Linked DNA regions of Homo sapiens: region 2 is linked to region 1. The links come from fine-mapping of genetic effects on gene expression. A gene starts in region 1. The other region holds a variant in brackets. All regions are shown on one strand. Distances are between the middles of the regions.

Region 1 (10,581 bases):
GCCCATGGAGGCCAGTGTCTGACAGCAACCCAGGCCCACAGGGAGGAGGGCCAGGCATGACCCAACCCCCCACTTCTTTTTGCAGAAATTCACCATCACCTTGGCTCTGTCATTCTGATCTTTTCCACCCAAGGTATCAGCCGCAGTTGTGCCGCCATCATAGCCTACCTCATGCATAGTAACGAGCAGACCTTGCAGGTATGCGTTCCCCGGGCCAGGCTCGCACCACGGCCACCCCCTGGGAGGTGAGGTCAGAGCGCAACCTGGGAGGAGTGGGGCCCCAGCACTGCTTTGGGAGGAAGAATCCCAGATAACTCCAAGTCTAGGGTGCTCCCCAGTCCGCGTCACCCAAGGGCAAGGCCCCAGTGTTGCATGCTTGAGGCCTGAGGCTGGATATGCAGGGCTGGCCCAGGGACTCAGGCCAGGTCAGGCTGTCCTGCAGCCCCCACTGCTGTCAGGCCGTCCACCTGTGTTTGTTTGGTGTTGCCCAAGGGAGAACTGCTTGGAGTCCCAGAGCTGCAGCACAGGCGCCCACCCACTCCCGTCTATCTCCCTGTACCTTGGGCGCAGGGTCCAGAGAAGAGAGGGAAGCAGGGACCCATCGCAGCAAACCCAGGCGGAACTCGGAGCTCCTAACTCACAGCACCTTTCTCGAGGGCCTGCCCTGCCTGTCACAGCCTGTTCGTGATCCCCAGAGGGCTTGATAGGACCTACAAAGCCCCAACATTTGCCCAGGGATGTTTTTGGGGGAAGGAGAGGGACAAAGAATAAAACTCGTTGGCCAGTGGCTTCGGTTGTTGCCCCCATGTGCACTTTGGGGGTGAAGTTGTAGGCTAGAAAGTCCTTTTTTTTTTTTTTTTTTTTTTTTTGAGATGGAGTCTTGTTCTGTTGCCCAGGCTGGAGTGCAGTGGTGCAATCTCCACCTCCTGGGTTCAAGCGATTCTTGAACCTCCACTGCACCCTCTGCCTCCTGGGTTCAAGCGATTCTCCTGTCTCTGCCTCCCGCGTAGCTGGGATTACAGGTCCGTGTCACCATGCCCGGCTAATTTTTGTATTTTTAGTAGAGACAGGGTTTCACCATCTTGGCCAGGCGATGTGTGGGGTGGTGGTGGGGGATGGGTGGTTTACGATTCTTCCTCCAGGGCCTGTTCTGACCCAGCGAGGACATAGTAAGCCTTTTGACTGCACAGCTCTGCCCCTCACACCACTTTAAAAAAAATTGTGGTTAAAATATACATAACAGGCCGGGCGCGGTGGCTCACGCCTGTAATCCCAGCATTGTGGGAGGCCGAGGCGGGCAGATCACCTGAGGTCAGGAGTTCAAGACCAGCCTGGCCAACATAGTGAAACCCCCTCTACTAAAAATACAAAAATTAGCTGGGCGTGGTGGTGCGTGCCTGTAATCCCAGCTACTCTGGAGGCTGAGGCAGGAGAATCGCTAGAAGCTGGGAGGCAGAGGCAGCAGTGAGCTGAGATTGCACCATTGTACTCCAGCCTGGGTGACAAGAGCGAAACTCTGTCTCAAAAAAAAATATACACACACACACACACACACACACACACACACACACACACATACACACACACACACACACAACAAAAAAATTACCATCTTAACTATTTTAAAATGTATAGCTTAGGAGCATTAAGTACATTCACATTATTGTACAACTAATCTCCCAAACTTTTCCATCTTGCAAACCTGAAACAGCAACTCTTTACTTTCCCCTCTTCATCGCCCCGTGGGAACCACCATTCTACTTTTTGTCTCTGTGAATTTGACTACTCTAGGTACCTTATATAAGTTCCTTCCTTTTAAGGCTGAATAATATTCCATTATATGTGTGGAATTCACCAATAAACCCATCTAGGCTGGGTGCTTTCTGTTTTGGAAGGTTACTAATTATTGATTCAATTTATTATTGTTATTTTATTTATTTATTTTTTTTTGAGACGGAGTCTCGCTCTGTCACCCAGGCTGGAGTACAGTAGCACAATCTCGACTCACTGCAAGCTCTGCCTCCCGGGCTCATGCCATTCTTCTGCCTCAGCCTCCCGAGTAACTGGGACTACAGGCATCTGCCACCACTCAATTTCTTTAATATATGTAGGCCTATTCAGATTGTCTGTTTCTTCTTGTGTGAGTTTTGGCAGTCTGTGTCTTTCAAGGAATTGATCAATCACATTTGTGGATATGAATATTCTTCTATTATCCTTTTAATGTCTGTGGGATCTGTAGCAATGTCTTCTCTTTCACTTCTGTATTAGTAATTTGTGTCTTCTGTTTAAGTTAGCCTGGCTAGCGGTGTATCGATTTTATTGATCTTTTCAAAGAACCGGCTTTTGGTTTTTTTGATTTTCTCTATTGATTTCCTGTTTTCAATTTCATTCTTTGCATGGCGTATCTAGTTTTCCTAGCACCATTTGTTGAAATGACTGTCCTTTTCCCCCATCGAATGGTCTTGGCATACTATCAAAAATTCCTTGACAGGCCCGGTGCAGTGGCTCACACCTGTAATCCCAGCAGGTTGGGAGGCAGAGGTGGGCAGATCACCTGAGGTCAGGAGTTTGAGACCAGCCTGGCTGACATGGCAAAACCTCGTCTCTGCTAAAAATACAAAAATGAGCCAGGCGTGGTGGCACATGCCTGTAATCCCAGTTACTTGGGAGGCTGAGGCACAAGGATCACTTGAACCCAGGAGGCGGAGGTTGCAGTAAGCTGAGATTGCACAATTGCACTCCAGCCTGGGCAACAGAGTGAGACTCAGTCTCAAAAAAAAAAAAAATTGCTTGACCATATAGGTAAGGGTTTATTTCTAGGCTAGGCTGGCTATTCTATTCCACTAGTCTCTTTGTCTTCATGTCCATACCATACTGTTTTGATTACTGTAGTTTTGTTAGACTAAGGTTTGAAATCAGGAAGTGTGAGACCTACAACTTTGTTCTTCTTAAATATTTTTTATGGGGTCCTTTGAGATTCCATATGAATTTTAGGATGGATTTTTCTATTTCTACAAAAAATGTTGTTGGGATTTTGATAGGGATTGCCTTAAACCTGTGGATTACTTTGAGTTGTATTGGCATCTTAATAATATTAAGCTTTCCAACCCATGAACACAGGATGTCTTTTCATTTGTTTGTACCTTTAATTTCTTTCAGCACTGTTTTGGAGTTTTCAGTGTACAAGTCTTTTGCCTCCTTGGTTAAATATTTTATTCTTTTTGATGCTACTGTAAATGGAATTGTTTTCTTAATTTCCTTTTTGAATTGTTTAGTATATAGACATGCAACTAATTTTTGCATGTTGGTTTTGTATCCTGCATCCTTGCTGAATTTATTAGCTGTGTGTGTGTGTTGTGTGTGTGTGTAATCTTTAGGGTTTTCTACATATGAAATCATGTCATCTTCAAACCAGAGGTAAGGTTACTTCTTCCTATCCATTGTAGATGCCTTTTATTTCTTTTTCTTGCCTCATTGTTCTGGCTAGGACTTCTAGGACTATGTTGAACAGAAGTGATGAAAGCAAGCACCCTTGCCTTGTTCCCGATCTTAGAGGAAAAACTTTATCTTTCGCCATTGAGTGTGATGTTAGCTGTGGGCTTCTCATATATGGCCTTTATCAGGTTGACATCACTTCCTTCCTTTTTTGTTTTTGAGACAGAGTCTTGCTCTGTCACCCAGGCTGGAGTGCAGTGGTGCAATCTCGGCTCACTGCAACCTCCGCCTCCCAGGTTCAAGCAATTTTCCTGCCTCAGCCACCCAAGTAGCTGGGATTACAGGCATGTGCCACCATACTTGGCTAATTTTTGCATTTTTTTAGTAGAGACAGGGTTTCGCCACATTGGCCAGGCTAGTCTCGAACTCCTGACCTCAGGTGATCCACCCGTCTCGGCCCCCCAAAGTGCCAGGATTACAGGCATGAGCCACTGTGCCTGGCCATTTCCTTCTGTTCCTAGTTTTAGGCACCACTCTTGCCTTTCCCTTTTTCGTTTGTCCTCAATCCAGATGGAGACCAGGTGCTCACCCTCCTTCATGCAGCAACACTTCCTGTACTTTAAGGTGGATGCCTGAAGGAGGGCAGCTTGAATTTTCTTCTTCAGAGAATTTGCCCACAGTTCTCTTCCTCTTTCCATTAATTTGTCCAGTCACAATGCAAACCTTTGTTGAGACTGCACTAGGCTTGGCATAGTGTTTGCCATCCACAGGTGGTTTCATGTATATTGTCTTAATCTTCCCAGAAGCTGTTTGAAATAGGAATTATTTCTGTCACCAGATTTAGAAGCAGAGGGGCTTGCCCAAGGCAGAGTCAGCTCCCATGACTCCCAGCACTGATGCATTCATGCCAGGCTGCCCTGTTTCTGCATCCAGCCCTTAAGCCGTGTTGCTGGCACTGTGCAAGTGCCTCCTGTCTCTGAAAGCTGCCTCTGATCCAAGTGGAAAGGGCCCAGGACCAATCGTGAAGTTCACTTTCTCTCTTTGTATTCATAGAGGTCCTGGGCCTATGTCAAGAAGTGCAAAAACAACATGTGTCCAAATCGGGGATTGGTGAGCCAGCTGCTGGAATGGGAGAAGACTATCCTTGGAGATTCCATCACAAACATCATGGATCCGCTCTACTGATCTTCTCCGAGGCCCACCGAAGGGTACTGAAGAGCCTCACCTGGGGGCATTTTGTGGGTGGAGGGCCAGAGTGTGTATACCCAGGCTTGTCTGGAAGGAGAAGGCCTTTGCTGCCTGAAAGTCTCATGTTAGCCTCCTGTACTGATTCTTCCCAAGTGCCTGTTCACGCCACCTAGCTGATGCGCCCTGCTCAGGTTCACCAAGAACCCGCATCCCTGAGGTGTCGCGGGCCATCCCAACTGCACCCCTGAGGCTGCCTCTGGAAGAGCATCTGGCTGCTAGAGCAGCTGCCCTGCATCCCCCTGGTGACTTAGACCCTTTGGAGGCTGCCTGGGGGTACCCAGAGGTTGCCTGTGTTGGTTCACAGAGGATGTCACAATAGCCACCAATAGGCAGTCCCCTAGTCCCAGAGATACCAAGCCCAGCCTTGTCTAGCCCCCAGGCTCCTAGAATGGGATCACACCCTTGCCTCATCCCCAGCGCTTCCTGCCATCCACCCCTTGAAACAGATTTTCTTTCCCTGCTCCCCACTCATTTCTGCCTGGCTGTGTTCACCAAGGAGAGATTCTCACCCCCTCCCCCATCTCCCTATCCACGTTTCTAGAAATTCCTAAGGTCTTAAAAGTTTTCCTTTTTTTTACCCCCTTTCCTTTTTTTTGGAGGCACGGTCTTGCTGTGTCTCTCAGGCTGGAGTGCAGTGGCGCAATCATGGCTCACTGCAGCCTCAACTTCCCTGGGCTCAAGCGATCCTCCCACCTCAACCTCCTGAGTGAGTAGCTGGGAATGCAGGCATGCACCATCACACCTGGCTAATTTATTTTTATTTTTGTAGAAACAGGGTCTTGCTCTGTTGCCTAGGCTGGTCTCGAACTTCTGGGCTCAAGTGATCCTCCAGCCTCGGCCTCCCCAAAATGCTGGGATTACAGGTGTGGGCCACGGCACCCAGTTGGAAGTTGTTTTCCAAATGCACTTCTCCAAAGCTGGCAGCACCCACAGAACAAACTGGGCATCAGGAGACGGCACAGACTAGGGGACTGGTAGGGGATTAGGATGTCCATCCATGCAGGACCTTCCCCAAGTCCATTCGGCAACCATTCCCTGCCACCGCGTGGGTGGGGCTGGGAACAGAGAGATGAATGCCGTCCCACCACTTAGCGCGCTCTGTGGAGGGATGGGGGTGGGAGGGGGTGGGGGATTCCCCTCAACAGAAGGGCAGGCCTTCAAGGAGGAGTGGGGTTTTGCCAGAGGGGGAACGGCTTTACACACAGCCCTGGCTTTCCTCAGGGTGTGAGTTGGGACAGAGCCCGGGATGGCTGCAGAGCTCCGATTAGGGACCTCCTGGTAGGCAGGACACAGCCGCTGGAAAGTTTTAAGCATGAACATGATGGGGAATCAGCCTTGTGTTTTGGGAAGGGCAGTCCGGTGGCCGCGAGAAGGGACAGTGGAGGTGAGGCAGGGAGAAAGGAGGCCGCTGTAAAAATCCAAGCGAGAGAAGCAGCTCTAACTCCCTTCCCCAAAGAGGCTCAGCTTCCCAAGGACGAAAATGTTGCAAGCAGGTGTCACCTCCCTGCACCTTGGTTTGCTCTCAGCATGACGGGCCAGAGCCCTGCTGGCTGCACCACGCGGCTGGCACAGTCAGTGCAGTCCAGGCCCGGGGGCTGCAGCCGTCCCAGTCCCGGTCCAGGCCGCGAGTCCCGGGGCTAGCAACCGCCCTTGCATACGGCCCCGCCCATACCCCGCCCCTGTCCCGGATTGGCTGGGGTGGGGGGCGTGGCCTTTCCCCATTGGTGCCCGTGGCGGCGCGAGCCCGGAAGCGGACGGGGGCGGTGGCGGAGGAGCCTCGGGTGGGCCGGGGTTGCTGCGCCGTCCTCCACTACTGGCTACTGGCGCTGCAGCCATGCAGCCCCCGCCCCCGGGCCCGCTGGGCGACTGCCTGCGGGACTGGGAGGATCTACAGCAGGACTTCCAGAACATCCAGGTTAGCGCCGCTGCGGACGCCGGGTCGCCCCCGAGCCGCGTCTCGCTGGCTCAGGGTCAAGGGTCGGGCAGCCCTGGGTCAGGCAGTGGGGAGCTAAGGGTCAGGGGTCGGGGCCCTGGCGTCACTGCCAAGGGGGGCGAGGCCCCTGGTCCTGGTGTCCACTGCCACCACCTCCAGTGTCCGGGAACCCCGGCGGGACCCCATCGCGCTGGGCGACCTCGGCTTCCAATGAGGGCCTTGGAAAGGGGCCCAGACCCCGACCCCGTCCCTTCCCAGAAGAGAGCGGCCGCCTGAGTCACACACGGGCGGGCCCAGCCTTGGGTCAGCCACTCAGCAAACGCGCAGCGGGCAGCGCCCGAGAGGCAGCCCAGGTCGGGGGAGCAGCGTTTAGGGGGGTGTCCTCGGCCTGGATGGGGGACGCCCCAGGCAGAGGGATACCGCGCGCCGCCGAGGCCTTTGGAAGGAAAGAGGGGACTTGACAGGCCCATGTGGCTGCATCAAGGAGAACCAGGGGAGGGGTGGGACGGGTGGGAGGGGTGGGCGGGGCTAGGCCCTGCAGGGACGCTCTGGCCTGGCAGAGATCAGAGTCCCTCCGAGGCCAGTGGAAAGCTACGGGAGGAATTGTCTGGACTGAGCTCCCCAGGGCCACCGTGGCTGTTCTGTCCAGAGGCCAGGGAGGAGGAGGCTGTTGGCCTCATCCAGGCAGGGAAGAGGGCGGTGGCTGTGGGTGGGCAGAAGTGGCACGTGCTGGGGTCCGAGGGGGCGTGGTGACCCCTCCTGGGCATGAGAAACAAGATCCAGACAGAGTAGAGCCCTGGCCAGCTGATGGCTTGGTTAGCCCTTGGCCTCTCCTGGACTGGTTCCAACTGCTTCCTGTGGGCATTGAAACCCAGCTGCCCCTGGCCCTGCCAAGGCCCCTGCCATTGGTGCTTCTCCCCAGAGACTGAGCAGACCCAGTCTCCCCGCCTGGCCGCCGCTGTCCTGGCCACAGCCCCTGCTTGGCTCTCCTCACACTGCCCCTTGCCCCATCTCTAGGCTGCGCCTTCTTGAGACTCACCTACCAGGGCAAAGTGCTTGGGGAATCCTTGGGCCAAAGGTGCTAGGGGAAGGGAGTGGGGCTGGCCTTAGAGCAGGAGGCTCTAGGGTTGAAACCTGATGACCTTTAACCTGGGAAGAAGATGTCAGGGATTCCTGAGAACCTGAGCTCCTCCTGTACTGGAAGGCTAGATAGGCAGGAGGAGCTGAGAGGATAGAGGGGTGGCTCTGGGCTGCCTGCTTGGTCCAGGAGGTGGCCCTGGGGGCCTAAGCTCCAGACTCAAGGTAGGAGAAAGAGTCTGTCCTTGTAGGGTGGGGACAACTAGCAGATGGGCTGAGACTAAGAAAACCTTGGCTGGGTGCGGTGGCTTATGCCTGTAATCCCAGCACTTTGGGAGGCCGAGGCAGGCAGATCACCTGAGGTCAGGAGTTCAAGACCAGCCTGGCCAACATGGTGAAACCCTGTCTCTACAAAAATACAAAAATTAGCCAGGCATGATGGCAGGTGCCTGTAATCCTAGCTACTTGGGAGGCTGAGGCAGAAGAATGGTTTGAACCCGGGAGGCGGAGGTTGGAGTGAGCTGAGATCCTGCCATTGCACTTCAGCCTGGGCAACAGAACAAGACTGTCTCAAAACAAAAACAAAAACAAAAACACCTAGTCTGTTTTTGGAGGAGGGGTGCTGTGGGGGTCTCTGGGCTCACAGGAGGACACCCAGGTCCTTGCCTGCCTTGGGGAGACAGCCACCTCATCCCTGGGCAGGCACAGTTCTACCTCCTTTCCCGCTGAGCGAAACCCTCCCAGCAGCCCTGGGGGAGCCTGAGCGCCACGTCCTGCCTGCAGGCTCTGGCTCAGTAGCTCCCCAACTGGCCTGAGCCTCTCCCCTCCGGCCCCCAGGAGACCCATCGGCTCTACCGCCTGAAGCTGGAGGAGCTGACCAAACTTCAGAACAATTGCACCAGCTCCATCACGCGGCAGAAGAAGCGGCTCCAGGAGCTGGCCCTCGCCCTGAAGAAGTTAGGATCCCCTACCCCACCCGCCATGGGCAGAGTGTGGGGTGGGAGGGCTGGCGCTGTGAGACCCTGGGCACCGCCCCTCCCCTCTCTGGGCCCTGTTTGCCCTTCTGCCCCTGTGGGAGTCAGGGAGGACACTTGGGAGTCCTCTTGCCCTGACTGTTTCTGGCCTTACCCGCAGATGCAAACCCTCCCTCCCAGCAGAGGCCGAGGGGGCCGCACAGGAGCTGGAGAACCAGATGAAAGAGCGCCAAGGCCTCTTCTTTGACATGGAGGCCTATTTGCCTAAGAAGAATGGGTGAGGGCCCCCACCGCCACCCCCAGCTCAGTTCACAGCCACTCCTGAAGCCGGGTGCTGCCTCCTCTTGGTCATTATAGTCAGCAAATGTTCCCTGGGCCCAGTACAGGCTGAGCAATGAGGCACAGTGCTGACTTCAGGGGAGACACCTGGCTGAGAGTGACATTTCACTGTGATAGGTGCTTTGTAGCATGGGGAATGAGGTGGCACAGTGAGGGACACCTGACCCAGTCCAGGAGGTCGCAGAAGGCTTCCTGGATTAGGGGATGGGTGGGCTGAGTCTTACAGAATAAAGAGTGGGCCGGGCGTGGTGGCTCTCACCTGTAATCTCAGCACTCTGGGAGATGGAGGTGGGAGGATCACTTGAACTCAGGAGTTCAAGACCAGCCTGGGTGACATACTGAGACCCTATGTCTCTATTTATTTAAAAAGAACAAATAGGCTGGGCGCGGTGGCTCATGCCTGTAATCCCAGCACTTTTTTGGGAAGCCAAGGCAGATCGCTTGAGGTCGGGAGTTCAAGACCCGCCTGGGCAACATGGTAAAACCCATCTCTACTAAAAATACAAAAATTAGCCGGGCATTGTGGCATGCACCTGTAATCCCAGCTACTTGGGAGGCTGAGACAGGAGAATCACTTGAACCCGGGAGGCGGAGGCTGCAGTGAGCTGAGATCGCACCACCGGACTGTAGCCTGGGCAACAGAGTGAGACTCTGTCTTAAAAAATAAATAAGTAAATAAATAAAAAAAATGAGGCAGACACATGGGCTGAGGGCGAGAGGTAGCAGCAGGTGGACGGGCCATGAGAACTTGTAGTGGCCAGAGGTCGGGGCGGGAGGTGAGAGGCAGCCAAGAGATCAGAGGCTTTGCTGGGCTGCAGCTCTTGCCTTGAGCCCAGTAGGCGGGCGGGGGCGGTGGAATGTGCACCTGGAAAGGCCAGCAGCTGTCACCCAGGAGGACGGATGGGGCAGTGCAAAACCCCCTGCTGAGCAAAAAATCCCAGCAGAGGCTGCAGGCAGGGAGATAGCTGGGAGAGGGCGTGGCCCAGAAGGCAGGGAGAAGAAAGGAGTGTCCGTAGCCTGGGGTCAGTCCTGTGATAAGGAAGGGGATGCGCTTCCTGGAAGTTGGGTCATCTTGGCAGAACCATTTGGTGGAAGGGGATGGATGTCGATCTTGGGGATGACAGAAGAGCCAAGGAAGGGAGACAGCCAAGTCTAGGAGACTTTTTTTTTTTTTTTTTTTTTTTGAGACAGAGTCTCACTCTGTCGCTAGGCTGGAGTGCAGTCACTTGATCTCGGCTCACTGCAACCTCTGTCTCCGTGGTTCAAGCGATTCTCCTGCCTCAGCCTCCGGAGTAGCTGGGATTACAGGTGCCCGCCACCACACCCGGCTAATTTTTGTATTTTTGTATTTTGTATTTTTAGTAGAGATGGGGTTTCACCATGTTGGTCAGGCTGGTCTCGATCTTCTGACCTCATGATCCACCCGCCTCGGCCTCCCAAAGTGCTGGGATTACAGGTGTGAGCCACCGCACCCAGCCCTCTGGGAGACTTTTTAGAGCTTGGCTGTGAGTGGAGGGAGAGAATTAGCAACTAGGAACTGGAAATTAGCACTGGGTTGAGGGGCAGCTACTGCCT
Region 2 (11,715 bases), 380 kb after region 1:
GCCCACCTCCTCCCAGCGGCTGCCCTCTCTCTCTGTCCCTCTTCACAGCAGAAACCCTGTAGAGCACTCATTGCCTCCAGCTCCCAGCCTCCCCTTTCTCTCCTCGACCTACCATCAGAGGGGGAGAGCCTTTTTTTTTTTTTTTTTTTGCTTTTTTTTTTTGAGATGGAGTCCCGCTCTGTTGCCCAGGCTGGAGTGCAGAGGCACAATCTCAGCTCATTGCAACTTCCGTCTCCCAGGTTCCAGCGATTCTCCTGCCTCAGCCTCCCGAGTAGCTGGGATTACAGGCACGCACCACCACGCCTGGCTAAATTTTTTATTTTTATTAGAGACAGGCTTTCACCATGTTGGTCAGGCTGGTCTCAAACTCCTGACCTCAGGTGATCTGCCCGCCTTAGCTTCCCAAAGTGCTAGGATTACAGGCGTGAGCCACCACACCCAGCCAATTTCCTTTAAAAAATATATAGATAGATAGATAGATAGATAGATAGATAGATAGATAGATAGATAATTATTTATTTGACAATCTTGCTCTGTTGCCCAGGCTGGAGTGCAGTAACGCAGTCATAGCTCACTACAGCCTCCAACTCCTGGGCTCAAAGTGTCCTCTTGCCTCAGCCTCCCAAAGCATTGGGATTACAGGCACCAGCCACCATGCCCGGTCAAAATGCATTTCTTCATATGGCTTCCAGGGTGCCACAGTCTCCTGGCTTCCCCCAACCTCACAGGCTGTTTCTTTTCTATCTCCATCACTGATTCCCTCCTATCCTTATTTATTTATTTAGAGACCAGGTTTTAAGACTTGCAATGTTTGTATTTTTGGTAGAGACGGGGTTTCACTGTGTTGCCCAGGCTGGTCTCGAACTCCTGGGCTCAAGCAATCCTCCTTCCTTGGACTCCCAAAGTGCTGGGATTACAGGCATGAGCCACTGCCCGTACCTGGCCTCCTGTCTCTCCTGAACGTCGGGGTGTCCTCAGGCTGTCCCCAGACATCTCATCTGCACTCACTCCTTGGTGCTCTTATCCACTCTTACATTCCGTCCAAATTTATAAATGTAGCTCAGACCTGTTCTTTTTTTTTTTGAGACAGAGTCTCACTCTATCACCCAGGCTAGAGTGCAGTGGCATGATCTCAGCTCACTGCAGCCTTCACCTCCTGAGTTCAAGCAATTCTTCTGCCTTAGCCTCCCGAGTCAGCTGGGTGGCGTGCACCACCACATCTGGCTAATTTTTGTATTTTTAGTAGAGACAGGGTTTCATCATGTTGGCCAGGCTGGTCTCGAACTGGCCTCAAGAGGTCTGCCCACCTCGGCCTCCCAAAGTGCTGGGATTACAGGTGTGAGCCACCACACCTGGCCTAGCTTAGACCTTTTCTGAACTCCAGATGCGGCACAGCCCACTGCTCACCCACAGCTCCACTGGGATACCTGGTGGGTGTGTCATGTCTAACCTAGCCCCAAACCAACTCTCCCATGGGTCCCCCCAGCTTGTTAATGGCAGCTCAGTCCCTCTAGTTGCTCAGGCAAATCATCACGATGTTCTCCTTGACTCCTTCCTTCCTCACACCCCAGATCCAGAACATCAGATAATCCCATCAGCTCTAGCTTCAAAATAAATTCAGAGACCGACCACGTCTCGACACCTCCTCTGCCTCCACCATCAATTCTGTCCTGATTGAAGGCAGCAGAGTCTTCACTGTGGTCCCTGCAGCCACACTGGTCCCTGCAGTCTGTTCTCAGCACAGCAGCCAGAGGGATCCTATTGAATCAGATCGTTTTACCGCTTTGCTCAAAACCTTCCAGGGAGGCCAGGCACACTGGCTCACCTGTTAATCTCAGCAATTTAGGAGGCCAAGGCAGGAGGATCGCTTGGGGCCAGGAGTTCAAGACCAACCTGGGCAACATGGCAAGACCCCGTCTTTACCAAAAACCGCAAAAAACAAAACCACTTCCAGTGGCCCCAGTCTTATGTGGAACAAAGGTCAGTCCTCACCATGAGCCACGAGGCCTCTAGGGATTTGGCCCCTCCTGCCCCTGACTTCCGGCTCTAGCCATACTTCCTCGCGCCTGCCAGCTGGGCTTCTGCTCGTGTGCCTAGAACTCTTCCCCCAGGTGTGTACCAGGCTCACTTCCTCTTCATGTTATTTATTTTTTGAGACAGGGTCTCACTCTGCTGCCCAGGCTAGAGTGCAGTGGCCCTATCGTAGCTCACTGCAGCCTCAAACTCCTGGGCTCAAGCCATCCTCCCACCTCTGCCACCAAGCCAGGCTAATTTTTTCATTTTAAATTTTTTTGTAGAGACAGGATCTTGCTATGTCACCCTGACTGTTCTCAAGCTCCTGGTCTCAAGCAGTCCTGCCTCCTCGGCCTCCCAAAGTGCTGAGATTTTAGGTGTGAGCCACCACGCCAGCCTCTCGTCACTTTAAAGTCTGTATCCCTCTGTCACCTCAGTACAGCCTTTCTCAGTGACCCTTTGGGAGGTTATAATGCTGCCTAGAACACTCCAGCCCTATCCTTGCCCTTATCTTTCTTCCATAGCACCTCTCGCCATCCGATTTGTTTACTGCTTGTCTCCCCTGCTAAAATATAAGCTCCGTGAGGACAGAGATCGTCATCTCTGTTCCTTGCTGTTTTATTTTGGTTTTGTTTATTTATTTGTTTGTTTGTTTGTTTTTGAGACAGAGCCTCACTCTTTCACCCAGGCTGGAGTGCAATGGTGCTATCTCAGCTCGCTGCAACCTCTGCCTCCCAGGCTCAAGCAATTCTTGTTCCTCAGCTTCCCGAGTAGCTGGGACTACAGGCATGCACCACCACCCCTGGCTAATTTTTGTATTTTCAGTAGAGACTGGTTTCACCATGTTGGCCAGGCTGGTCTCGAACTTCTGACCTCAAGTGACCCACCCACCTTGGCCTCCCAAAGTGATGGGATTACAGGCATGAGCCATTGTGCCTGGCCTTTTTTTTTTTTTTTTTTAAAGACATGGTCTTGCTCTGTTGCCCAGGCTGGTGTACAGTGGCGCAATATTGGCTCACTGCAACTTCTGCCTCCTGAGCTCAGGTGATCCTCCCACCTCAGCCTCCCAAGTAGCTGGAACTATAAGCATGCACCACCACGCCTGGATAATTTCTTGTATTTTTGTAGAGACAGGGTTTCACCATGTTGCCCCCAGCTGGTCTTGAACTCCTGGGCTCAAACAATCCACCCACCTTGGCCTCCCAAAGCGCTGGGATTACAGGCATGAGCCACCGCACCCTCACTGTATTTCTAGAGTAGTGCCAGGCATATGATAGGCCTTCCAGAAATATATGTCGAATGAATGAGTGAATATGAAAACAATTCAGAGCAGTTGTTCCCTGAGTTTAGGGAAGACCAGAGAGAGATCTGGGTGGCCCCTAAGAATCTGTTACCCGTGATCACGGTGAAACAGAAATAGATGACAGAGAGCAGGGGTGGTATCTTTTAGAAGAAAATAGGTGACCATCTATACTGGGCCAGTTCTATAGTTAGCAAGATGACATGGGAGGAGAGCTATTTTTCTGAGCTTTATGTAACAGATGTGGTTTTGTATAAATCACACTTCTGTAAACTGAATCCTCTCTTAAATGTACTAACGGAGATTGCTATTTAAGGGTATCGAATGCCAATGTCTTCTGTGAAATGAATAATAATCTCCTAATTTGGCCTTAGTGGCAATTCACATTTTCCAGAAAAAAATTTACTTACATCAAGGTATACTTGTCTGAGCTGAGAAACTGACTTCATTCTTCACATTTCCACCATCTTTATTCTTTGCTCTCATTCTTCCTTTTTGTTACTGTTTTTCTTCTCTTTTTTTTTTTTTTTTGAGACAAAGTCTTGCTCTGTCGCCCAGGCTGGAGTGATCTCGGCTCACTGCAACCTCTGCCTTCTGGGTTTAAGCAATCCTCCTGCCTCAGACTCCCGAGTAGCTGGGATTACAGCAGGCACACGCCACCACACCTGGCTAATTTTTGTATTTTTAGTAGAGATGGGGTTTCACCATGTTGGCCAGGCTGGTCTCAAACTCTTGACCTCAAGTGATCCGCCCACCTGGGCTTCCCAAAGTGCTGGGATTACAGGCATGAGCCACTGTGCCCGGCCACTGTTTTTACTTTTAGCTGAATTTTTTCTTAGACTCTGACATACAATGTTCTTCTGTAACATCACCTGAATTAACAGTGCCATGGGCCCTTCCGAGCCCAAATGAGTCCAATTTGGGGGTGGAGCAAAGGAATCTAGGGGTGTGTGTACAAACTCGGGGTACAGGATTCTCAGATGATATCCCGGCCTAGCCAAGTCTGGGAACCACTGACCAAAGGCTTTCTTTCTACACACAGCGATTCCTGCAGAAATAGAACAAAAGGTGGGATGTCAAGGATGTTGGGTGGGAGGCCAAGGTGGGAGGCTCACTGGAGCCCAGGAGGTTGAGACCAGCCTGGGCAGCATAGTGAAACCCCATCTCTACAAAAAAACTTGGAAGAAAAAAAAAAGGATGTGCTCAAGGGAGAGGCATCAGGTTTTCTAGTGCTGGGATGTGGCTGGGGCTTGGCTCATTCACTTGACAGAAAGGTCACTTCTAGAAATTGGACACTGCAAGAGACCCAGAGCTGGATAAGGGATGGTTCCCGTGCTGGGGGATCTCCTGTAAGTCAGGCATCACCCACCTTGAGTCTTCAGATCATTGGAGATAAGTAGCAGTATATTAATAAAAGAGAAGAGACAAAACTAACCTCACTGTTAGAAAGCTGGGGAAACAGCTGGGTGCGGTGGCTCATGCCTGTAATCCCGGCACTTTGGGAGACTGAGGAGGGCAGGTCACCTGGGGTCAGGAGTTCAAGACCAGCCTGGCCAACATGGTGAAACCCCCATCTCTACTGAAAATACAAAAATTAGCCACGTGTGGTAGCTCACACCTGTAATCCCAGCACTTTGGGAGGCTGAGGCAGATGAAACACTTGAGGTCAGGAGTTTGAGACCAGCTTGACCAACATGGTGAAACCCTGTTTCTACTAAAAATATAAAATTAGCCAGAGTTGGTGGCACGTGCCTGTAATCCCAGCCACTCGGGAGGCTAAGGTGTGAGAATCGCTTGAACCCAGGAGGTGGAGGTAGGTAGCAGTGAGCCGAGATCACACTACTGCACTCCAGCCTGGGTGACAGTGAAACTGTGTCTCAAGAAAAAAAATGAAAGAAAGAAAGCTGGGGCAACGAGAGGGTGGTAGAGGGCATGAAGAGAGGAAGTTGGGCAATGCTGGTGGTTTGTGGGGAGGGCGCAGCCCAGGGTTTCCCACTCTTGCTGACAAGCTGCCTATCCGGAAGGCTTCCCCCGG[G/A]AGCTCTGGCCAGGGCCATTACGAAAGGCCACTCCAGTCTGGCTCTGTGAATAGTGAAAGATCAGGATATGTCTGGTGGATTTACCCAAGGCTGCGCTTTCTAGGGAGGGTGACTTGCCCAACCAGTGACTATGATGAATGGGGAATGAGCCCTCTGGGTGCAATACCTGCCAGCGTGACTTTGCAGTTTGGGGTGCTAGGGAAGCAGAACCAAGGTTTCCTCCATGACGACAGGAGCAGCAGCCTTACAAGGGAGGAGCCCCTTTCGAAGCCACAGCTCCCTGTGGGTGAGAGGAGGGCATATGGGCCCGCTTCTCCTTTTCCCCAAGGCCTGGTGTCCGAGTCTCTTACCCTGTGCCCTACATTCCAGGCCCCTTTGAAAGCCTAAGTGGGCACCCCGAAGGTCATCACAGATGTTCTCTTATGGAGGGAGGCAGCTGGCATACGGGGAAAAGGAGACCAAGAAACCAAGACTCACGCAAGGAACCAGGCTGAGGCTGGGCGCGGTGGGTCACGCCTGTAATCCCAGCACTTTGGGAGGCCGCTGCAGGAGGATGGCTTGAGGCCAGGAGTTCGAGACCAGCCTGGGCAACACAGGGAGATCCTCACCTCTACAAATAATAAAAAATTAGTGGCTGGGTGCGGTGGCTCACGCTTGTAATCCCAGCACTTTGGGAAGCCGAGGCAGGAGGATCACCTGAGGTCAGGAGTTCAAGACCAGCCTGGTCAACATGGTGAAACCCCGTCTCTACTAAAAACTACAAAACAAATTAGCCGGGAGTGATGGTGGGTGCCTGTAATCGCAGCGACTTGGCAGGCTGAGACAAGGGAATCGCTTGAGCCGGGGAGGCGGAGGTTGCAGTGAGCTGAGATCACGCCATTGCACTCCAGCCAGGTGACAGAGCAAAACTCCATCTCAAAAAAAAAAAAAAAAAAAATTAGCTGGGTGTGGTGGCATGCACCTGTGCTCCCAACTATTTTGGGAGGCTGAGGTGGGAGGATTGCTTGAGCCCAGGAGGTCGAGGCTGCAATGAGCCATGATTGCACCACTGCACTCCAACCTGGGCAACAGAGCAAGACCTTGTCCAAACAAAAAAAAATAGTCATCTAAATGTAGTTACTGTTGTTCCCAGCATCAGTTAGATCAATCACTGTGCCTGACATATACCTCCCTGGTAAACATGAGGAGGAGGACACAGGCTCAGGCACCAGCATGCCTTACCCCAAAGTGATGGCCAGTAATCAGCCTCTGTATGTGTGGACATCCACCCTCATAGGCTGCCCTGCCTAGTCCAGGGGCCAGCAAACATTTTCTGCAAAGGGCCAGATGGTAAATGTTTTTGGCTTTGTGGCTTCCTGCTGCTACTATTTCTTCCTCCTCCTCGTCCTCCTCCTCTTCCTCCTCCTCCTCCTCCTCCTCCTCCTCCCCACCCTTAAAAAGCCAGGCATGGTGGCTAGCGCCGGTAATTCCAGCACTTTGGGAGGCTAAGGTGGGAGGATCGCTAGAAGCCAGGAGCTCAAGACCAGCCTGGGCAACAAAGTGAGACCCGGTCTCTACAAAAAAAAATTTTTTAATTAGCCTGGCGTGGTGGTGCGCACCTGTAGGCCCACCTACTTGGGAGGTGGAGGTGGGACGATTGCATGAACCCAGGAGTTCAAGGCTGTAGTGAGCTATGATCGTACCACTACACTGCAGCCTGGGCAACAGAGCAAGACTCTGTCCCTAAACAAGAACACAAAAACCAGTCCTAGCTCACAGGCCATGCACAAGCAGGCTGAGGCCAGGTTTGGCTGGTGGGCGGTGGTTTGGACCCCTAGCAGCCTGTCCTTTCTCATTCTTGTCTAGGACGATGTTACGAGATACTTTGTTTTTGTTTTTGTTTTCTTTTCTTTTCTTATCTTTTCTTTTTTTTTTTTTTTTTTTTTGAGACAGAGTCTTACTCTGTCGCCCAGGCTGGAGTGCAGTGGTGTGATCTCAGCTCACTGCAACCTCCACATCCCAGGTTCAAGCGATTCTCCTGCCTCAGCCTGCTGAGTAGCTGGGACTACAGGTGCGCACCATCACACCCAGCTAATTTTTGTATTTTTAGTAGAGACGAGGTTTCATCATATTGACCATGCTGGTCTCAAATTCCTGACCTCAGGTGATCCGCCTGCCTCAGCCTCCCAAAGTGCTGGGACTACAGGCATGAGCCACCGCGCCTGGCCATTTTTTGTTTGTTTTTGTTTTTGTTTTTTGAGACAGAGTCTCGCTGTGTCACCCAGGCTGGAGTGTAGTGGCACAATCTCGGCTCAACTGCAACCTCCACCTCCTGGGCTCAATCGATCCTCCACCTCAATCTCCTAAAGTGTTGGGATTACAGGCATAAGCACAGTCAGAGGAGAAGGAAGGAAAGGACAGGAAGGAGTAGTACAGTCTTTGTCCCTTTGAGGACAAGATCCACCTTTTTTAAGGGTGGGGAGTCAGGGTCTCCATCTGTCATTCATGATAGAGTGCAGTGGCACAGTCATAGCTCACTGCAGCCTCCAACTCCTGGGCTCAAGCAATCCTCCTGCCTCAGCCTCCCAAGTAGCCACCACTACAGATATACCACCATCCCCAGCTAAATTTTCATTTTTTGTAGAGATGGGGTCTTACCATGTTGCCCAGGCTGGTCTTGAACTCCAGGCCTCAAGTGATCCTCCTGCCTCGGCCTCTCAAAGTGCTGGGATTCCAGGCATGAGCTGCCACACCTGGCCACAGGGTCCACTTCCTATCATCTGTGTGCTCTCTCACAGCCCCTGGTGTGGTGCCCTGGATCCTGGCAGCCATGTGCAGGTGCATGGCTGTCCACAACTGTCTGTGAAAGGCCCTCTTGTGGTTGTATGGCAAAGAGCCTTACTATCTGTGTGGCAGCCTTGCCCTGCGTGTAGTAGGTATTCAGTAAAATCAGTTTCTCAGGCCAGCGTGGTGGCTCATGCCTGTAATCCCAGCACTTTGGGAGGCCGAGGCAGGTGGATCACTTGAGGTCAGGAGTTCGAGACAAGACAGGCCAACATGGTGAAACCCCGTCTCCACTAAAAATACAAAAATTAGCCAGGCGGGGTGGTGGGTGCCTGTAATCCCAGCTATCAGGAGGCTGAGGCAGGAGAATCACTTGAACCCGGGAGGCAGAGGTTGCAATGCGCCGAGATCGCGCCACTGCACTCCAGCCTGGGTGACAGAGTGAGACTCCGTCTCAGAAAAAGAAAAAAAAATCAGTTTCTCAGTGTTTTTTATCTTTTTTTTTCCTGTGACAAAATACATATAACATGAAATTCGCTATTGTAACAAATTCAAGTGTATAATTAAGCAACATCTGGCACATTCGCTATGTCGTGCAACCGACATGACTGTTTAATTTCAGAACATTTTCACTATCCGTAAAGGAAACCCTGTTCCCATTAAGCAATCACTCCCCACCCCTCTCCTACCAGGCCCCAGTGGCCACCAGTCAGCTCTCTGTCTCTATGGATCTGCCCATTCTGAGCACTTCATACAAATAGAATCACACATTGTGTCCCATTTCATGTCTGGTTTCTTTCATGTAGCATGTTTTGGAGGCTTATCTACCTTGTAACTGTGTGTGTGTGTGTGTGTCTATGTGTGTGTGTGGTGGTAAAATATACATACCATAAAATTCACCATTTTAGGGCCCAGCGCATGGCTCATGCCTGTAGTCCCAGCACTTTGGGAGGCTGGGACAGCCAAAGCGCTTGAGCCCAGGAGTTTCAGACCAGCCTGAGCAACATAGTAAGACCCCGTCTCTACAAAAATTAGCTGGGTGTGGTGGCATGTGCCTATAATCCCAGCTACTCAGGAGGCTGAGGCAGGAGGATCACTTGAGGCCAGAAGTTTGAGACCTGCCTAGGCAACACAGTGAACCCCATTTCTACAAAGGAATTTAAAAATTAGCCAGGTGTGGTGGCATACACCTGTCGTCTCAGCTATCTGGGAGGCTGAGATGGGAGGATTGCTTGAACCCAGGAGGTTAAGGTTGTAGTGAGCCATGTTTGCACCATTGTACTCCAGCCTGGGCAACAGAGGGAGACCCTGCCTAGGCAACATAGCAAACCCCATCTCTACAAAAGAATTTAAAAATTAGCCAGGTGTGGTGGCATGCACCTGTCGTCTCAGCTGCCTGGGAGGCTGAGATGGGAGATTGCTCGAATCCAGGAGGTTGAGGCTGTAGTGAGCCACGTTTGCACCACTGTACTCCAGCCTGGGCAACAGAAGGTGAGGCAGACAGTAGGGTGGAGGACGTTGGTTGGCAACAGGTTTGTGTTGGACCCTGGCAGTTACAGAAGGCAGCACGGTGTGGGAGAGGAGGCGCTCTCAGATGGACCTGGGTTTGAATTCTGGCTCCACTTCTTGCTGGCTGTACTACTTGCAAGTAGCTTGTCTTGGAAAATAGGGGCCCAGATTTCTTGCCCTCTAGGGACCAAAGGCGGATGAGAAGTAAATTACCAGTGCAGTGCCTGGGAGGAGGAAGAGGCCCAAGTGAGGGTCAGTGGCTCCTGCTACTACCACTAATCTGGTGACAATGGCTCTATGATGATTATTATTATTTTTGATCAAGAGAAGAATTAAAAAGACCCTGATGTTGGGCAGCAAATTCCAAGTGTTGTAGCTAGGACCAGAGCAGTCTCACGGAGCACAGAAGGCTCCCCACGGTGGGGACGCTCTGTTTGGCTTTCATGCCTCACCTGTCCCTCTACTCTCCCAGGCTCACCTGATCTCCATTTGGTTCTGTACTCTCCCTGTCATCCTCACTCAGGTGGTAGGTCCCAGCTGTTAACCTGAGCTATTGCCACCTGTACTGCAACCTGCCATGGCCAATTTTCTTTTCTTTCTTTCTAGTTTTCTTTTCTTTCTTTTGTGTGCATGTGTGTGTGTGTGTGTGTGTGACCCAAGTTGGAGTGGTGCAGTGGTATGATCATAGCTCACTGCAACCTTGAACTTCTGGGCTCAAGCCATCCTCCCACCTCAGTCTCCTGAGTAGCTGGGATTACAGGCACCTGCCACCATGCCCAGCTAATTTTTGTATTTTTAGTAGAGACGGAGTTTCACCATGTTGGCCAGGCTTGTCTTGAACTCCTGGCCTCAAGTGATCTGCCTGCCTCGGCCTCTCAAAGTACTGGGATTACAGCCTCTTTTTAAAAAAATTATTATTATTATTATTTGAGATGGAGTTTCACTCTTGTTGCCCAGGCTGGAGTGCAATGGCACGATCTCAGCTCACTGCAACCTCCATCTCCTGGGTTCAAGCGATTCTCCTGCCTCAGCCTCCTGAGTAGCTGGAATTACAGGCGCCCACCACCAGGCCTGGCTAATTTTTGTATTTTTAGTAGAGATAGGGTTTCACCATGTTGGTCAGGCTGGTCTTGAACTCCTGACCTCAGGTGATCCACCCGCCTCGGCCTCCCAAAGTTCAGGGATTACGGGCATGAGCCACCGCGCCCAGCCTTTATTTTATTTTTTTTGTGAGACAGAGTTTCTCTCGTCACCCAGGCTGGAGTGCAGTGGCGCGAATTCGGCTCACTGCAACCTCCACCTCGTGGGTTCAAGTGATTCTCCTGCCTCAGCCTCCTGAGTAGCTGGGACTACAGGTACGCGCCACCACCCCTGGCTAATTTTGTATTTTTAGTAGAGATGGGATTTCACCATGTCGGCCAGGCTGGTCTGGAGCTCCTGACTTTGGGTGATCCGCCCACCTCCGCCTCCCAAAGTGCTGGGATTACAGGTGGAGCCACCGTGCCCGGCCTCCTCTGCCTTTGTTTTGCCCTTCTCCTTTCCCATCTGTGCTGCCTGTTCTCAGGTTTTCCTTCTCTGGCCCCTTGCCTGGGGACCTGCCACCCCCACCCGGGGCACATCCCCGTGCCTGCTCCTGCCGTGGGACCTTTGTGAGCCAGCCTGGCCTTGGCAGCCCGAGGGCTGGGCTTCTGCCAAGAGCTGTGTGTATGTGACCTGACAGTGTCCAACTGGGCCCACAGGCCAGGCCCAGGCCCAGCTCCCCACACAAGCAAGGCCAGAGGGTTTCCCATTGGCCACTGCCTGGCTGGGCTGTCCCAGGCGAGCGGAGGATGGGGAGTGCTGGGGAGGGAGGAAGAGAGGCTGGGAGAAAGGCGCCCTTCCTGCGGTGCCTGCTGGTAATTGGCTCTCCGGAACCAGCCGGGGACACGAGGGCCTGCTGGGTCAGGAAGTGGTGGACAATGCCACCCTTTCAGGGGAGACACGGCTTGGTCTTAGGTCCTGTGTGACTCCAGGGAAGTCCAGAGAACAGCCTGTTCTCAGATGATGTTCCCTAACCCAGAGCCCCCTCCAGAGGTGAGACACCCAGCCCCGCAC

What was found.
Region 2: its variant is fine-mapped to the expression of TMEM120A in whole blood (TOPMed, PIP above 0.99).

The regions. Positions count from the first base shown.
Region 1 is chr7:75,990,507-76,001,087 of GRCh38, reverse strand. TMEM120A (transmembrane protein 120A) reads left to right here and starts at 6,493. Exons shown (of 12, transcript NM_031925.3): 1 at 6,493-6,598; 2 at 8,531-8,649; 3 at 8,828-8,944. The coding sequence starts at 6,518. It overlaps STYXL1 (serine/threonine/tyrosine interacting like 1), which reads left to right. Exons shown (of 9, transcript NM_001317785.2): 8 at 86-198; 9 at 4,489-4,746. The coding sequence ends at 4,620. RefSeq lists enhancers at 1-283, 8,953-9,012 and silencers at 6,252-6,701, 6,712-6,771, 9,763-10,057.
Region 2 is chr7:75,611,645-75,623,359 of GRCh38, reverse strand. The region is part of intron 1 of HIP1 (huntingtin interacting protein 1); the gene reads left to right. Among named protein-coding and RNA genes, the nearest start is that of HIP1, 120 kb to the left of the region's middle. RefSeq lists enhancers at 1-173, 5,538-6,039, 11,328-11,715. The variant G/A (reference allele first, on the strand shown) is at 5,349.